2 linked regions of the Homo sapiens genome follow. The gene in region 1 interacts genetically with each later gene. Each region holds a gene or a part of one and is shown on either strand. Other genes may lie near its edges.

What was found.
Region 2: changes in POLD1 (region 1) and ATR are lethal when combined (synthetic lethality), as found in Homo sapiens cells (2 studies listed by BioGRID).

Annotation. Positions count from the first base shown.
Region 1 is NC_000019.10:50,378,347-50,390,144, forward strand, and holds the start of POLD1 (DNA polymerase delta catalytic subunit), read left to right. Parts: upstream 1-6,000; 5' UTR 6,001-6,044; intron 6,045-7,588; exon of another isoform or gene 7,589-8,511; intron 8,512-9,313; exon of another isoform or gene 9,314-9,458; intron 9,459-11,798. Other genes in the region: NR1H2 (oxysterols receptor LXR-beta), read left to right, coding at 1-93, 176-450, 656-835, 1,434-1,533, 3,620-3,828, 4,110-4,256. UniProt on the Homo sapiens protein: As the catalytic component of the trimeric (Pol-delta3 complex) and tetrameric DNA polymerase delta complexes (Pol-delta4 complex), plays a crucial role in high fidelity genome replication, including in lagging strand synthesis, and repair.
Region 2 is NC_000003.12:142,568,734-142,575,733, forward strand, and holds part of ATR (serine/threonine-protein kinase ATR), read right to left. Parts: intron 1-7,000. UniProt on the Homo sapiens protein: Serine/threonine protein kinase which activates checkpoint signaling upon genotoxic stresses such as ionizing radiation (IR), ultraviolet light (UV), or DNA replication stalling, thereby acting as a DNA damage sensor.

The sequences.
Region 1 (11,798 bases):
GTGGCGGAACCTGCCAGATGGACGCTTTCATGCGGCGCAAGTGCCAGCAGTGCCGGCTGCGCAAGTGCAAGGAGGCAGGGATGAGGGAGCAGTGTGAGTGCAGCGGGAGGGGGCGGTGCCGGCCTGGCCCCCCGCCTAGCCCTGGGGTTCTGCTGAGGCCTGCATCCCCCTACAGGCGTCCTTTCTGAAGAACAGATCCGGAAGAAGAAGATTCGGAAACAGCAGCAGGAGTCACAGTCACAGTCGCAGTCACCTGTGGGGCCGCAGGGCAGCAGCAGCTCAGCCTCTGGGCCTGGGGCTTCCCCTGGTGGATCTGAGGCAGGCAGCCAGGGCTCCGGGGAAGGCGAGGGTGTCCAGCTAACAGCGGCTCAAGAACTAATGATCCAGCAGTTGGTGGCGGCCCAACTGCAGTGCAACAAACGCTCCTTCTCCGACCAGCCCAAAGTCACGGTACTGCCCCCTCCACAACCTTGAGTGTGACGGTCCCAATGGGGTAGAGCCAGCTGGGCCATCACCCAGGGTGTGGGAGAATGAGGCTCCAGAGGGCAGGGGCTTTGGGAAGAGGATCCCCCAGGGTGCAGGCTTGGCCTCAAGGTGGCCACCCAGACTTAGGCTCACAAAGACCTGGGAGTGACCCTGGTCTCCTGTGTCCCAGCCCTGGCCCCTGGGCGCAGACCCCCAGTCCCGAGATGCCCGCCAGCAACGCTTTGCCCACTTCACGGAGCTGGCCATCATCTCAGTCCAGGAGATCGTGGACTTCGCTAAGCAAGTGCCTGGTTTCCTGCAGCTGGGCCGGGAGGACCAGATCGCCCTCCTGAAGGCATCCACTATCGAGGTAATGGTCCATCTGCCCACAAGGAACCCCAGAGATAGCTCCAGGACAGATGCTGGGAGCAGAGTTAAGGAAGACCAGTGCTTGCCGTTGTAGGATGACATTCCACGGCGAATAGAGTCTTCTATGAGCCAAGGAGAGAAAGGAAAAAGGGTCTGAGGCTGAGAAAATTGAGGATCAGGCTAGAGGCGCTATTGCAGAGAAAAGTTGCCAAAAAGGCTTTTCAGAGGAGTTAGCATTTGAATCAAAGTAGGGATAACATATAAGTATTGAGCACGTGCTGTATGCCAGGCTCTATTCCAAGTGTTGGCATATGGGGCAAAGAACAAAGCAGATCAAACCCCGTGCCCCAAACCTTGTGCTCACCTGGGGAAAGAGTATCCTAAGGAGATGGGGATGCAGCATGTGCGGAAGCCTGAAGTGGAGAAAGAGCTCGGGCTGTCTCACGTGATGGCTGCACGCTGGTGTGGCTGAGAGAACAGGGGGGAAGGGGACAAGGGATAATCCTGGTGAGATTAGACCCCCATTTGGGCCAGGAGGGGAGGGACTAGCAGCTGAAGGGTCACAGGGCTCAAGCTCCCCCTCCCGCTGCCGCCCTTAGATCATGCTGCTAGAGACAGCCAGGCGCTACAACCACGAGACAGAGTGTATCACCTTCTTGAAGGACTTCACCTACAGCAAGGACGACTTCCACCGTGCAGGTAGGGCCCAGGGGAGGCTTCGGGGAGGCTTGGCGCCCCTGCTGGCTGGAAGACCTGGGGCCAACTCATCCCTGTTGGAGTCTCTGTTTCTTTATCTCCAAAGTTGGGGTGAGGGTTGAGCCAAGGTGAGAGTGAGGTAAGAGTGCATGTGCCACGTGTGGTGGTGCACGCCAATAGTCCCAGCCACTCGAGGCTGAGGAGGGCAGATTGCTTGAGGCTATAGTGAGCCGTGATTGTGCGACGGCATTCCAGCCTGGTGACAGAGAAGACCGTGTCTCTATTTTTTAAAAAAAGCATGTATTGAGTGCCGACTCTGTACATTGGGTTGCAGTGGAAGTTGAGATGGGAGGAGCCCTGTTACCACATCAGGCATCTTGGTGGGCATTAGGAAAAGCATTCCCCGCCCCCGCCAAAACGTGGTCTCACCCAAGGGAGGCGGGCTGGAGCTCGGTCCATTGTGAAGCGGGCAGCCTTCTTTACTGTCTAGGGGAGCACTGCTTCCTGCCCTCTGAGAGCGCTAACCTGCGTGGGTGGGCTTCTGGAAGAAGGCCTGGGCAGTGAGAGGCACTGCCTAGGAAAAGGGTGGGAGGAGCATTGCTAGTGCTGCAGAGCATGCACCAGGGCCTCGCTCCCTCATTGTCCCACAATCTCTGGGGGACCTCTCTGTATTTCCCGACATCTGTCCAAACCCCACCCTCTCCCCTTCCTCTTACTCCGGCCCTTTCACCACCCGAGACGGTCCCAGTAACCCTTTTAGTATGAGCTTAGCAGGGCAGGGCTGCAGGGAAGCGTTTCTGGCAGAGGAGATTGGCGATTGCAGAGGCCCTGAGGTTGGGGAGAGCTGGTGGTTTGGAGGAACTACAGGGAGGCCCAGGCAGCTGGAGCACAAGGAGATGGGGTGGAGAGGAGGTCGGGAATCCCACCCTACCCCTTCCCAGCCGCTCCTCTGCCACCACCCTGGAACACTGCCAGGGTCCCCTTGAGGGGCCGCCTGCCTCCACCCCTGCCTGATGGGGCTGCTCACAGCACAGGCAGAAGGGTCCTGTCAGCACTTAAGGCTGCCCACTTCCCTCCTCCGCTCAGAACCCTCCGCGGCTCCCGTCTCACTGGGAGAAGAGCTAGAGTCCTCTCTGTGGCCCACAAAGCCCTTTAGGACCTGGCCTCGCTCACTCTCTGCCCTCAGCTCTCACCCTCTCCCCCTGTTCCAGCCACTCTGGCCTCTTACTGGCACCCATCCAGCATGCTGCAGCCAAGGGCCTGTGTACTTGGAGTTTCCTCTGCCCAGAACTAGGGGGACCAACTGGTCCTAGTTTGCCCAGGACCTTCCCAGTTTTAACACTGAAAGTCTCATGGCCTGGGTAGCCCCCGTCCCAAGTCATGGGAACAGCAGACGTTGGTCACCCTCACAATCCCTCATCTCCTTCGGATTGGTCACTGCTCCAGCGTCACCCAGAGCGCAGCCTTCCCTGCCCGCCTTGTGTAAAATAGAACCATGGCTCAGCAGGGCCCTTCACACTTCTCTGCACTGCCTGGTTCCATTGAACTCACAGCCCTCTGACAGGCTGGGCCTCTTCCTAATGTGTTTGTCTATGACCGGTCCCCTAGGCTCTCAAATGTAAGTGCTGGAGCCTGGCACGTGGCAGGTACTCAGTGACATTTGATGACTGAATGAACAAGTCAGTTTTGGGAATGAGTTTGGGCTTTACCTTGAGCAGTGGAAGCCAGCGCTGGGACCAGCACGATGTGACCTAGGTTTTAAAAGCTTCCCTTTGCCTTTGTGAAGGGGACAAGAATAGGGACTCGGGAAGCTGCAGCCACCGCCCAGGTGGGAAGGGAGGGTGGTGATAGGATAGTAGAAAATACTGAAGAAACATGCACCCTCATTCATTCCTTCACTGGGCAGCATGTGTGGCACACCTACTACATGCCAGCACTCATGGGCACGGGGCACAGGTGGACAGAAATGACAAGAACGCTGTAATTACTGCTGTGTTCCCAGCCCCAGAGACTGTGGGCAGCGCCAGGGTCCAGGATGTGGGGCACGGTTTCGGGCTGAGGGAGTCACGGGCTGCCTCCCGCCCCGCAGGCCTGCAGGTGGAGTTCATCAACCCCATCTTCGAGTTCTCGCGGGCCATGCGGCGGCTGGGCCTGGACGACGCTGAGTACGCCCTGCTCATCGCCATCAACATCTTCTCGGCCGACCGGCCCAACGTGCAGGAGCCGGGCCGCGTGGAGGCGTTGCAGCAGCCCTACGTGGAGGCGCTGCTGTCCTACACGCGCATCAAGAGGCCGCAGGTAGGGCCCCGCAGAGCCTCTGCGCAGAGCCAACTACGTCCCGCGGCCCACGTGGTCCGTTCAGGCTGGGTTCTGCCAGCCACACTGCCCTCCCCTCCGCAGAGTCTTTCCTCAGGCCCCACCCTGCTCGACTGGGAGCCAGGTCTAGTCCAAGCACAGAGGCGGGCCCCACGCTGGCTCCCACGCCTGGTCGGGGAGGGGCCCTCCTTTCTGTTGGGGTGGGCCTCCCAAAGCCTGGCAGGGCAGGGGCTCAGCCAGCGCCCACCTGCCTCCTCCCTCAGGACCAGCTGCGCTTCCCGCGCATGCTCATGAAGCTGGTGAGCCTGCGCACGCTGAGCTCTGTGCACTCGGAGCAGGTCTTCGCCTTGCGGCTCCAGGACAAGAAGCTGCCGCCTCTGCTGTCGGAGATCTGGGACGTCCACGAGTGAGGGGCTGGCCACCCAGCCCCACAGCCTTGCCTGACCACCCTCCAGCAGATAGACGCCGGCACCCCTTCCTCTTCCTAGGGTGGAAGGGGCCCTGGGCCGAGCCTGTAGACCTATCGGCTCTCATCCCTTGGGATAAGCCCCAGTCCAGGTCCAGGAGGCTCCCTCCCTGCCCAGCGAGTCTTCCAGAAGGGGTGAAAGGGTTGCAGGTCCCGACCACTGACCCTTCCCGGCTGCCCTCCCTCCCCAGCTTACACCTCAAGCCCAGCACGCAGTGCACCTTGAACAGAGGGAGGGGAGGACCCATGGCTCTCCCCCCTAGCCCGGGAGACCAGGGCCTTCCTCTTCCTCTGCTTTTATTTAATAAAAACTAAAAACAGAAACAGGAAAATAAAATATGAATACAATCCAGCCCGGAGCTGGAGTGCAAGATGGAGAGGGCGCGGGCTTCTAGGGACCTCAGTGACACTGGGTGCCCGAACCTGATTGAGCAGGTGGGACTGGGTGTCCCCAGGCTGTTGGGAAAAGGGTGGCACATAGGGTCCCAGTGTTGGGTGGTGTGTCGCCTGCTGTGAAAGTTCAGGACAGAGGCCTCAGCCTCAGGGTCACCTCCCTGGACAAGGTGAATCAGAACTCACCCTTGAAGGATAAACAGGATTTAAGTGAATGAGGGGACCTGGACTTCTGTCCGAACAACAAGTGTTTGCTGAGGCCTCCTGTGGGCCAGGCACTGGGTTGGCCATTCTAGAGATGGAGACATTCACCCAATAAATGTTTCCAGAGCATTAACTACAGTTAGGCACAATTCTAGGCACTGGAAACATCTGTGAACAAGATAACCATCCTCCTACCAAGACTCGGGGGATAGGGACTTTAATGAGCGTGGCACTGTGGTGGGGCTAGAGGAAATCAGGGAAGGTATCACAACAGAGGCAATCGCTGGGACCTAAAACAAGAGCCTGGGGGCTGGGCCTCCAAGTTGAGGGAACAGCACGTGCAAAGTTTGAAAGGAGAGACGCCAGGAGTTCGGAGCGAAGCGACGAAGTTCCTCCAATCCTTCCTGCCCCTGTGCCAGCCCTGAAGGAGCTGAATGAGCAATTCCAATCGAGGGCGAAAGGGGGGTTGGATGGAGGGATGCAACTTAAAGGTGTATTTATTTGGGGCGGGGAACAGCGGAAGTGAGAGTAGTTACCAATGATCACCTTATCCTAAGAGTAGTGTACCGGGCGCCCCACAAGTGTCCCTATCATGCGTTGTTGAGTCTAATTTACGTATAGGGAAACTGAAGCTAGGATGAAGGAGAACAGATCAAGCCAGGACTCTACCGCTTATCGGCCAGCCTCTGCGGGGATCTTGGGCGTCAGGTCACCAGCTGGCTGCTGGGCAGCGACGGGGCAGCGCTCCCTACACGGCCCCGGGCGAGAGGCGGGCGGGGGGACGCGGAGGATGCGCGCGCAACACCCGAGGGTGGGAGGAGAGAGAACAGAACCGCGGCGCGCCCAGACCGCACGAGGTCGTGAAGGTAGCCGCGCGGAGGGGCGTGGCTTCGGGCAGACAGGTCATGGGGAGGCGGAGTTAAGGGAATTTTTCAGCAAGGGGGCGAGGCCACTTCGGAAGCTGAGAGAGGGGGCGGGGCCTGCCCTGCAGTCGAACAAGCGGGGCGTGGCCTTGCCCGCACTTGGGCAGGCGGGGGCGTGGCCCGTCTCTGAGCGCCGCGGCTCTGGGCTTGCGCGCGCGGGAGTCAGGGGTCACGGCGGCGTAGGCTGTGGCGGGAAACGCTGTTTGAAGCGGGTGAGTAGAGGGGAAAAAGGGAGTTCGGGGCAGTGGGCCTGGTAGGGAACGGGGCTTGAGCAGCCAGGCACATAGATCTGAGAGACGGTTGCGAGGGCACCCTTTGGCCCGGGGGCGCGCAGGAGAGGGCAGGGGCCAGGGGTTTCCTGGGCGAGGGCGCGGGGACGAGCAGGAAAAGGCCGGGGTGGGGGTGGAATTCCTCGGCGGGCAGGGGGCGCATGCGCCGGGCACCGTGGGGCGGGACGTGGCCCGGGAGGAGCTGGGGGGACTGGGTGGTGCACGTGCGGGCTTGGTGTCATCCTGGATTCGCTGGGTGTTTGAGTACTCTGTGCCAGGCACTTTTCTGGAAGCAGGAACAAGTCAGAGAAGTCCCTGTCTCGGGAAGACAGACGGTAGACAAGTGATGAGTTTTAATAGATCAGTAAAGCAGTGCTCTGGGGCTGTGAGATGCTCTCAGAAGGAAACTAACGCAGGGTAACGTGATAATGAGCGAAGAGCCTGTTGCTTTAGCTGGAGTGGTCCAGAATCGACCGCTCTGGGACCCTCAAGTGCAAAGCCCTGAGGTGGAAGGAGCTTGGCGTATTTGTAGCAGGAGCCGAGGGGACGAGAGAAACACAGATGAGGTCGGAGTCATGATGGGGAACTAGATCCTATAGGGCCTTGTAAAACTTGGTATGGAATTTCTCCTTTATTCTAGGTTCAGCGGGGAGCCGTGGGAGGGTTTGAGCGTGGAAACAACACGATTCGCCCCATGTTTTGAAAAACTCACCACTGAGTGGAAATTGGATTGTAGCAGGAATAAGAATGGAAGGAGGGAGATCTGTTAGGAGGGAGAGCGTCCTGCAGGCAGAGAATCAGGCTCCGGTTACCTTTGCGGGCGGAGACAGGGGGACTGGCTGATGGACTGGGCGTAGGAGCAAGGGGAAGAGTCCAGGATGACTCCTGGGTTTGTGGTTTGAGCAGCAGGCTGGATGGGGAAGGCTAAGGGAGAAGCAGGTTGGGGTTGCCGCTCTGAAGGCAAAGATTAGTGGGGGAGTGAGTGGGCAGGGTTTAGAGCGGAGCCAGGAGTGGGCAGGGCGATGTCAGTGCCTCGCCTCAGCCCTTCCACTGAAGGAACTTGTTGCCACTGTCTTCTCTTTTTTTTTTTTTTTTTTTTGAGACAGAGTCTTGCTCTGTCACCCAGGCTGGAATGCAGTGGTGCAAACTCAGCTCATTGCAACCTCCGCCTCCCGAGTTCAGGCGAGTCTCGTGCCTCAGCCTCCTGAGTAGCTGGGATTACGGCACCCACTGCCATGCCCAGCTCATTTTTTGTATTTTTAGTAGAGATGGGGTTTCGCCGTGTTGGCCAGGCTGGTCTCGAACTCCTGACCTCAGGTGATCCACTTGCCTCGGCCTCCCAAAGTGCTGGGATTACAGGCGTGAGCCACCACGCACGGCCGCTTCTCCTCCTTCCTGCACTTCCCCCCCACAGGTCTCTCTTCCCCCTAGAGAGGTTCCTTCCCTCCCCCTGAAATGCTCTTCCCTCTCTTATGTGTTTCTGACAGCTGCTGTTTGGACAGGCCCTCTGCTGAGCACTGGGGAGCCAATGATCATTCAGTTTGGTTGGGGAAGGACAGGAGATTTCAGTCCAGAGTGCGCTGAGCTATGGCGGAGCAGTGATAGTCTTTGGGAGCCAAGAGAAGAACCTGTGCGCTCAGGGAAGACTCACCAGAGTGGTTGATATTCACAGGGAGTTTCAACTCACATGTCTTTTTTTTTTTGGTTTTTGAGACAGGGTCTTGCTCTGTCGCCCAGGCTGGAGTGCAGTGGCGCGATCTCGGCTCACTAACCTCCACCTCCCGGGTTCAAGCGATTCTCATGCCTCAGGCTTCCGAGTAGCTGGGATTACAGGTGTGTGCCACCACGCCCAGCTAATTTTTGTATTTTTAGTAGAGACAGGGTTTTGTCATGTTGCCCAGACTGGTCTCGAATCCCTGACCTCAAGTAATCCTCCCACCTCGGCCTCCCAAAGTGCTGGGATTACAGGTGTGAGCCACCACACCCGGCCTAAACTCATGTCTTGAAGTAACCGGACACTGTGCAGAGTGATGCTGGAGACCCCAACTTGGGCAAGATGCTGACTCCTTTTCTCAAGGAGCTCACAGGCTGAAAGGATCCCAGCTCTGCATTGTGCAATAACGAAAGTGGCACAAGGCGTTGTGGGAACCCTGAAGGGCAGCTGGTCAGCTTGGAGGAGCTAAGCCTGAGCTGAGTCTCTGGATGCAGTGGAGTTTCATGCAGCGAACACTGCCTAAGGCCTCCTGGGGGCCCACCCTGTGCTGGGTGATGCTAAGGTCCCAGAGGAGAGTCAGTCCTTGCTCTGCCATCCAGAGGTCCCTGGCTGGTAAGGGAGGAAGACACACACCCAGGCAGTCCAGAGACAGCAGTCACAGAGGCCTAGGGGAAGGACAAGGCCGAAAGCATGCAGGTGAGCCTGGGCAACATAGCAAGACCCTGTCTCTACAAAAAATACAAAAGCTAGGCCGGGCGCGGTGGCTAAGGCCTGTAATCCCAGCACTTTGGGAGGCCGAGGCGGGCAGATCATGAGGTCAGGAGACCAAGACCATCCTGGCTAACACGGTGAAACCCCGTCTCTACTAAAAATACAAAAAATTAGCCGGGCGTGGTGGTGGGCGCCTGTAATCCCAGCACTTTGGGAGGCCGAGGTGGACGGATCACTTGAGGTGAGGAGTTTGAGACCAGTCTGGCAGACATGGTGAAACTCTACTAAAAATACACAACTAGCTGGACATGGTGGGCGCCTGTAATCCCAGCTACCTGCGAGGCTGAGGCAGGAGAATCACTTGAGTCCAGGAGGCGGAGGTTGCAGTGAGCAAGATCCTTTCCCAAAAAAATATATAAATAAAAATAAAGCTGTGAGATTGGGCAAGATTGGATGAGGTCATTGAGGAAATGAGTGTCTCACTCATCGAGAAAACTGGTGTCTGGCCTGCAGCGAGCACGTGGTGTCATTTTGTTGCTGAATCTCTGTTAAGTGCTTGCTACCGAAGGGTCGTGAGAGGGGCAGAGGACAGTGTTTGCCAAGCTCTCATCCTGTGCCAGGGCCAATGAGAGGGGACACACAGGGGCCTTTCCTTCCTAATGCTGCTGTGCCTCCACTAACAAGAGCCCAGGTTTTGCCCCTGGTGACACCGTCCCTCCCACCGCACCCCCGCAGCCACAGCCAACTGACCAAGGGCAGCCAGTCAGCTCCTTCCTTCCTCCTCCAGCTTCAGCACTGACTCTGGGCTCCCACAAGCCCCTGCGCTTCCTCTGTCCCACCCGGGTCTCTCCTCGCAGATCATCACTCCCTGTCCCTCTCTGGCTACTTGCACAACCCGAAGCCAGAGCCGCTAACGACGCTTGCTTCTTCCTGTAAGTCACACATGTACGCGGTTGTCACCCAAAGAGCACAAACGCAGTCAAAGTCTTCCTCACACAAAACCCCCTGCACACGCTCACGGCTGCACCACTCACAAAAGGTGGAAGCAACCCTAATGTCCATCCACTGATGAAGGGATACGTCAGACGTGTTCTAGCCATACAGCGGAAAAGTACTCAGCAAAAAAGGGACACAGCACTGACGAAAGGCCGCCACACACATGAGCGATGAACACATTCAGAGAAAGCAGCCAGACACAAGAGGCTGCATATTCCAAGATCCCATTTATAGGAAATGCCCAGAATAGGCAGATCCATGGAGACAGAAAGTTAGATGAGTGGCTGCCAGGGGTGGGGGCAGATGGGCTGAATGCAGGGAGAGAGCTAAAGGATTTAGGCTTTTTGGGGTGATGAGAGAGTTCTAAAATTGACTGTGGTGATGGTTGCCTAACTCTGAACATACTAAATACCATTGAACTATATATACTTTAAATGGGTGAATTGTATAGTATGTGAATTATAGCTCAATAAAGCAGTTAGCAAATGAAGTCTTCTACCCTGTCCCCCAGGAAACCAGTTTCTTAGCTCTCCTTATAGAATGATGCATTAAAAGCAAATAGATTTATACATATGCCCTGCATTACAATAAAAAAGACGTCTACATACTCCCTGCATTACAATAAAAAAGACGTCTACATACTCCCTGCATTAAAAGCAAAAAGATTTCTACATACTCTTCTGCCCACCTTGTAAATTTGTTACTATTTTCATTTTATATATTTCCCCCTTAATATTTTGAAAAGTTTCAAACCTGCAGAGAAGGTACAAATTGAGTACAGTGAACAGCCATGGCCCTTTGCCTAGATTCACTGGCTGTTGGCATGACACCTCATTTGCTTTATGCTTTATCCAAGCACATGCATATACCTGTACCTTTTGTCCTTTTTTTGGCTGAACTATTTGAAAGTTGTGGTCATCATGATACTTCACCTCTGAAAACTCCAGCAGTTAACTCTTTTTTTTTTTTTTTTTTTTTTTTTGAGACGGAGTCTTGCTCTGTCACCCAGGCTGGAGTACAGTGGTGCGACCTTGGCTCACTGCAACCTCTGCCTCCCAGGTTCAAGCGATTCTCCTATTGCAGCTTCCTGAGTAGCTGGGACTATAGGCGCGCACCACCACATCTGGCTAATTTTTGTATTTTTAGTAAAGATGGGGTTTCACCATCTTTGCCAGGCTGCTCTTGAACTCCTGACCTTATGATCTACGTGCCTCTGCCTCCCAGAGTGCTGGGATTACAGGCATGAGCCACCGCACCTGGCCTCTTTTTTTTTTTTTGGTACAGTATTTTACTCTGTCATGCAGGTTGTAGTGCAGTGGGGTGGTCACAGCTCACTGCAGCCTCGACCTCCCCAGGCTCAGCTGATCCTCAGCCTCTCGAGTAGCTGGGACTAAAGGTGTGTGCCACCACACCCTGCTAATTTTTATATTGTTTATAGAGACAGGGTGTCACCATGTTGCCTAGGCTGATCTCAAACTCCTGGGTTCAAGCAATCCCCCTGCCTCGGCCTCCAAATGTCCTGGGATTACAGCCGTGAGCCACCGTACCTGGCCTCCAGCAGTCAGCTCTTAAGAACAGGGATGTCCGCCTGCAGAACTACAGTGTCATTGTCATCATCATGCAGTTTAACATGAGACAGTGACGTTATTGAATAGACGATTCTTATTTAGATCTGCCACGTGTCCCTGTAATATTCTTCAAGGCTATAAATAATTTCTTATTTTTTTTTTTTTTCCAAGACTGAGTCTTGCTCTATCGCCCAGGCTGGAGTGCAGTGGCACTATCTCGGCTCACTGCAACCTCTGCCTCCTGGGTTCAAGCCATTCTCTTGCCTCAGCCTCCCGAATAGCTGGAATTACAGGCATGCACCACCACGCCCGGCTAATTTTTTTGTATTTTTTGTAGAGACGGGGTTTCATTTTGGCCAGGCTGGTCTCGAACCCCTGACCTCAGGTGATCCGCCCGCCTTGGGCTCCCAAAGTGCTAGGATTACAGGCGTGAGCCACCATGTCCAGCCTGTTTTTTTTTTTGTTTTTTGTTTTGTTTTTTTTTTCTTTTTTGAAACAGAGCCTCATTGTCACCCAGGCTGGAGTGCAGTGGTGCGATCTTGGCTCACTGCAACCTCCACCTCCCAGGTTCAATCAATTCTCCTGCCTCAGCCTCCCGAGTAGCTAGGATTACAGGCGCCTGGCACCACGCCCAGCTAATTTTTATATTTTTAGTAGAGACAGGGTTTCACCATGTTGGCCAGGCTGGTCTCAAACTCTTGACCTCAG
Region 2 (7,000 bases), on another chromosome or scaffold:
CCTGGCCTCTCCCCGCTCCCGGCACCCACACCAATTTCGGAGCAAAGTTGTGGGGGAGCCCAGGTGTTGTCAGGACCAGGCCGCGTGTGCATGTGCTCAGGACGGCACTGACACACCAGCCCCCTGCTGCCTCATCTCCCTCTGGACTTTGGGCAGGCCAAGCGGTAGGCTGAGGGCAGCTCAATATGGGCCTGCAGGCGCCCCTCGGCACGAACAGCCTCGGTGTAGTGGGTGGCAGGTTGATGGCAGCAGGAAGTAGGCTCCTGGGAGGAAAGGGGTGGGTCCCCAGTGAAGACCCACCTTCAAGCCAGGAACAGCTTGAAGCCTGGAAGCCTGGCTGCCAGTTACACGGACCACAGCGAGAACTTAGGGTGCTTTTTCCAGGCCCACCCATGACTGCCTATGGACCAATTAGCATTCACTTCCTCCCTTCTGAAGCACATAAAAACTAAATTTTTGGTGGAACGCTAATACCCTTTTCCACAGTGGCTGTACCATTGTACACTCCCACCTGCAGTGGACAAGGGTTCCAATTTCTCCACATCTTCACCAACACACGTTATTTTCTGGGTGTTTTTTTATTATTATTTTATTTTCCCCTTTTGGCGACAGGGTCTAACCCTGTTGCCCAGGTTACTGTGCAGTGGTGCACCCATAACTCACTGCAGCCTCAACCTCCCAGCCTCAGGAGATCCTCCCACCTCAGCCTCCTGAGTAGCTGGCACCACAGGTGCATGTCACCACACCCAGCTAATTTTTTGTATTTTTTGTAGAGACAGGGTTTCACCACGTTGCCCAGGCTGGTCTCAATCTCCTGGGCTCAAGCGATCTGCCTGCTTTGACCTCCCAAAGTGCTGGGATTGTAGGCATGAGTCACCATGCCCAACTGTGTTTTTTTTTTGTGGGATTTTTTTTGTTTTTTGGTTTTTTTTGAGACAGAGTCTTGCTCTGTCACCAGGCTGGAGTGCAGTGGCATGATCTCAACTCACTGCAACCTCTGTCTCCCGGGTTCAAGCAATTCTCCTGCCTCAGCCTCTCAAGTAGCTGGTACTACAGGCATGCACCACCATGCCTGGCTAATTTTTTGTATTTTAGTAGAGATGGGGTTTTACCATGTTGGCCAGGATGGTCTCAATCTCCTGACCTCGTGATCCGCCTGCCTCAGCCTCCCAAAGTGCTGGGATTACAGGCATCAGCCAACATGCCCAGCCCCAACTGTTTTTTTATTAATAGCTATCATAATGGGTGTGAAACAGTATCCTGTGGTTTTGATTTGCATCTCCCTAATGATTAGTAATTGTGAGCATCTTCTCATGTGCTTATTTGTCCATTTGTATATCTTCTTTGGAGAAATGTCTATTCAAGTTCTTTTTCTGTTTTTCATCAGGTTATATTTGTTGTTAAGCTGTAGGAGTTCTTAATATATTCTAGATATTAAACTCCTTATCAGACATATGATTTGCAAATATTTTCTCCAGTTCCATGGGTTGCCTTTTCACTCTATTGATACTGCCCTTTGATGCACAAAGTTTTTAATTTTGATGAATTCCAATTTATCTGTTTATTTTGCTGCCTGTGCTTTGTGTCATATCAAAGAAATCATTGCCAAATCCAGTGTCATAATGTTTTCCCTCTATGTTCCCTTATTTTTATTTATTTATTTACTTTTTGAGACAGAGTTTCACTCTTGTTGCCCAGGCTGGAGTGCAATGGCGCGATCTCAGCTCACCGCAACCTCCGCCTCCTGGGTTCAAGCGATTCTCCTGCCTCAGCCTCCTGAGTAGCTGCGATTACAAGCATGTACCACCACGCCTGGCTAATTTTGTATATTTTTAGTAGAGACAGGGTTTCTCCATGTTGGTCAGGCTAGTCTGGAACTCCTGACCTCAGGTGATCCACCCATCTTGGCCTCCCAAAGTGCTGGGATTATAGGTGTGAGCCACCATGCCCGGCCCCCTCTATGTTCACTTCTAAGAGTTTCATAGTTTTAGTTCTTATGTTTAGGTATTTGTATGCCTTTTGGACTTTTAAAATTTTCCTGTAGCAGTAAAGAGAGAAGCCAGATTGCAAGGGGCTGAAAATCTAATGAAATGTGAATACTGAGAATAGCGGGTTCTTTCCAAAGCTTGATCATGAAATGAAGAGAAGTAGAGTTGGTGATAACTAAAGAACTGTATGAGATCAAGAGGGCTTTGTTTTGTTTCTCCCTTATAATGGAAAGACCTAAGCAACCAATTCTTGAGATGTGACTCCTCTTCTTGGAACCAGATATAAGTAAAAAGACAATCCTTGGACAGGAGGGTAACTCTTTCATAAACATAGAAAGAATGGATGGGTACAGACGCAAATAATTTAATAAATTCAAAAGGCAAGTAAAACAAGATCCTCTGCTTCAAAGAACTCAGAATAGTTGCTGGGGAGAGGAGAGGAATGCACTTAAATAATCAAAAGCGGCCGGGCATGGTGGCTCACGCCTGTAATACGAGCATTTTGGGAGGCTAAGGCAGGCGGATCATGAGGTCAGTAGATCTAAACCATCCCGGCTAACATGGTGAAACCCCATCTCTGCTGAAAACACAAAAATCAGCTGGGTGTGGTGGCGGGCGCCTGTAGTCCCAGCTGCTCAGGAGGCTGAGGCAGGAGAATCGCTTGAATCTGGGAGGCGGAGATTGCAGTGAGTCGAGATCGCGCCACTGTACTCCAGCCTGGGCGACAGAGCGAGACTCAGTCTCAATAAATAAATAAATAAATAAATAAATAAATAAATAAATAAATAATCAAAAGCAAGTATCATGTACACCCAAAGCAGGGAATGATTAACTCTACCTAGAGGATTCACAGTGGGTTATGTGTGAGTGATTAGCAAAGTCCATCACTTCTGACAAAACAACTTAGGGTGTAGTAAGACAGTTACTTATAAATAATAGCATATATTTCATATATGTCACAATTTATTTCTATATAGCACTGTAAAATGTTCATACATTTTCCCCACTTATTATCTCAAATAGTGGTAAAAGAAAAAGAGTGAATTTTTTTCTTTTTCTGATACAGAGTCTCGCTCTGTCGGCCAGGGTGAAGTGCAGTTAGTGGCACGATCTTGGCTCACTGCAACCTCCGCCACCCGGGCTCAAGCAATTCTCCTGCCTCAGCCTCCCAAGTAGCTAGGATTACAGGCGTGTGCCACCACACCCAGCTAATTTTTGTATTTTTAGTAGAGACGGGGTTTCACCATGTTGGCCAGGCTGGCTCGAACTCCTGACCTCAGGTAATCCGCCCGCCTCAGCCTCCCAAAGTGCTGAGATTACAGGCGTGAGCCACCGCACCCGGCCCTTTTTCTTTTTTTTTTCTTTTGAGACGGAGTCTCGCTCTGTCGCCCAGGCTGGAGCGCAGTGGTGTGATCTCGGCTCACTGCAACCTCCGCCTCGCAGCTTCAAGTGATTCTCCTGCCTCAGCCTCCCGAGTAGCTGGGACTACAGGCACGTGCCACCACGCCCGGCTAATTTTTTGTATTTTTAGTAGAGACGGGGTTGCACCATGTTAGCCAGGATGGTTTCGATTTACTGACCTCATGATCCATCCGCCTCGGTCTCCCAAAGTGCTGGGATTATCGGCGTGAGCCACCACGCCCGGCCTGACTTTTTTTTTTTTTTTTTTTTTTTTTTTGATTATTCAAACCACAAAGTCCAATCCTAATTGATTACATATAGGATCAATAGCATTTACAGCTAATAAATGCCATAAAAGAACTGATACTGGTCGGGCATGGTAGCTCATGCCTGTAATCCCAGTGCTTTGGGAGTCCAAGGTGGGCAGACTGCTTGAGCTCAGGAGTTTGAGACCAGCCTGAGCAACATGATGAAACCCTGTCTCTACAAAAGAAATAGAAAAATGAGCAGGTATAGAGACACACACCTGTAGTCCCCAGCTACTCAGGAGGCTGAGGTGGGAGGATCGCTTGAGCCTGGGAGGCTACAGTGAGCCAAGATTGTGTCACTGCACTCCAGCCTCGGTGACAAAACCAGACCCCTGTCTCCAAAAAATAGAAAAGAAAAAAAAGAACTGTTCTCTGGTCCTGGTACATAGTAGACATTTAAAGAAAAAAAAACAACTCTTCAATGAATGAATGGTTCATAAGAACCTTCCTGAATTTTGTGGTTTCTTCATTCCTAATGTACAGCCTTCTGGACCTATGGAATATTTACCTATTCCCTGCCACTAGACTATAAGCTCCTACAGGTGGCAGACTGTGCTTTATTTCTCTCTGCATGTCCTAAAGTGCCATTAGACCGTAAGCTCTTATAGGAGAGAAAATGCATTTTATTTCTTTTTGCCTCTGCTACATCACCTAGAACTTGCTTAATAGAAAAACTTACTGAAATTAACAAATGTTTTTAAGTAACATAAACTCTAGACACAAAGAATCAAAGGGCCAGGCGTGGTGGCTCATGCCTGTAATCACAGCACTTTGGGAGGCTGAGACGGACTGATCACTTCAGGTCAGGAGTTCCAGATCAGGCTGCCCAACATGGTGAAACCCTTTCTCTACTAAAAGATAGAAAAATTAGCCAGGCGTGGTGGTGGGCGCCTATAATCCTAGTTACTTGGGAAGCTGTGGCACTGAGGCAGGAGAATCGCTGGGACATGGAGGTGGAGGTTGCAGTGAGCCAAGATCGCACCACTGCACTCCAGCCTGGATGACAGAGTGAGACTTCATCTCAAAAAAAAAAAAAAAAAAAAGCAAGTTTGTATATGCTACTAAATAAAGTCCTTAAAAAAAAAAAAGAATCAAAGAACAAGTAGTTACATTTGCATATGAAAGCAAAACAACTTAGTGCTATGTATCTTATTTAAATCAGCGCTGGCCAATAGAAATATAACGTAAGCCATAATTTTGTTATTTTCTGGTAGCCACATTAAGAAAAGAAACAGGAAAAAAACAATTGATCCTAACAATATATCTGAAATATTAGGTGAATGTGTAATCGATATAAAAATTATTCATGAGATCTTTTACATTCTTTTTTCTGGTACTAAGTCTTTGAAACCCACTGTGTATCTTATATTTACAGCACATCTCAATTTAGACTAGCCGCATGTGAGGTGGTCAATGGTCACATTTGGCTAGTGGCTACCATAGTATAGGGCATCACAAATTTAACAAAAAATTCAAAATCTGTAATTACAAGGTAACATGAATTGTTTTAGACAAAGTCAGGAGACATTATGATAAACCACAGTAATTTCACAAGTATCATTTAAAAATGTGAACAAAGAGGAACATGGGAAGAGGAGCCAGGATTGTGGGTAGTGGTCAGAGTTTCTTACAAAGTTTCATTTTGTAAAGATTATGTACTCATGTATTATTTGTGTAATTTTTAAAAATCAGTTTTAGAAAAATGTAAATTGATTACCATTCATTAGATCTACTATCAGAAGAAAGAAACTTGGCCGGGCGTGGTGGCTCATGTCTGTAATCCCAGCACTTTGGGAGGCTGAGGTGGGCGGATCACTTGAGCCCAGGAGTTTGAGACCAGCCTGGGCAACATGGTGAAACCCCGTCTACAAAAATACAAAAATTAGCCAGGCATGGTGGCACACACCTGTAGTCCCAGCTACTTGGGAGGCTGAGGTGGGAGGATCGCTTGACCCCAGGAGGCAGAGGTTGCAGTGAGACATGTTCATGCTATTGAACTCCAGCCTGAGCAACAGGTGAGCCAGTCTCAAAAAAAAAAAAAAAAAAAGAAAAAAGAAAGAAAACTCACAGGAGTGAGCACTTCTTATTTTGTGACTTCTACCCTGGAACTGAGCTAAGAGGGTATAACTTTTCAAAAGCATACTATAAAATTTGAGTATTAATGTAAGTATTATATAAAGCTTAGGCACCTCCTCTGAGGTAAGCATCAAATACCAGGATAACCAAGACAGAATGCACCTGCCCTAAAATAATTTGCAGATTAAAGGACAAACAAGAGGTAATTATGGTTAAGAACTGACAGGCCCAAGAAAGAACACAAAGGGACACTCAGCCCTGAGCAGGGCCCTGTCAGTCATGGCTTCCTTAACGAGGTGATACAAAACTGACTCCCTAAGGGACAAGGCAGTGAAATAAGGGTAAGAGGGAGGGTAGTCCAAGCACTGGAAACTGTAAGAGGCTCTATGTGGCTAAAGCCTTTAGAGATGCAGCTGAAGAGGGAAGATAAGGTTAAATTTCAAAGGACTGGCTAAGTAGTTTGGATTTTACACTGAAGGCAATGTGTAAGCACTGAAGGATTTTAAGGAAGTAAAAATTAAGCAAGTTTTAAAAAACTTGCTTATTTCCCTGTTTAAAAGATTCCAATGGTTTCCCATCACACAATAAAATCTCACTCCTTTTTCTAGCCTCCAAGGTGCTGAAGGATGTGGCCCTTGCCTACCCCTCCCTGTTTAACTCATACCACTCCCCTCTTTACTCCCTGTGCTCCAGCCTTCTTACTATCCTTTTAAAAGTAGGCTCATTCAGCCTTGGCATGGTGGCTGAGGTGGGTGCATCACTTGAGGTCAGGAGTTGGAGACAACCTGTGCAACATGGTAAAACCCCATCTTCACTAACAATATAAAAATTAGCTCGGTGGTGCAAGCCTGTAGTCCCAGCTACAGGAAAGGGAGGCTGAGACAGGAAAATCGCTTGAACCCGGGAGGCAGAGGTTGCAGTGAGCAGAGATCACGCCACTGGAGAGGGCGAGACTCCGTCTCAAAAAAAAAAAAAAAAAAGCAGGCTCATTCCCACTTATGGGCCTTTGTACTTCCTATTCCATCCCAGATTCACGTGACTAGCTTCTTTACACCATCAAATCTCCTCTAGTGGCTAATGCTGCTGCTCCTCAGAACCTCCTCCACATCCCACTGTTCCATTTAACATTTTAATAGCAACTATCACATTTGAAAATGTCTTACAACTACAAAGCAATCTCAAGTAGGAAAATCAGAGAAGGTGATTCTGAAATGACATCTAAATGAA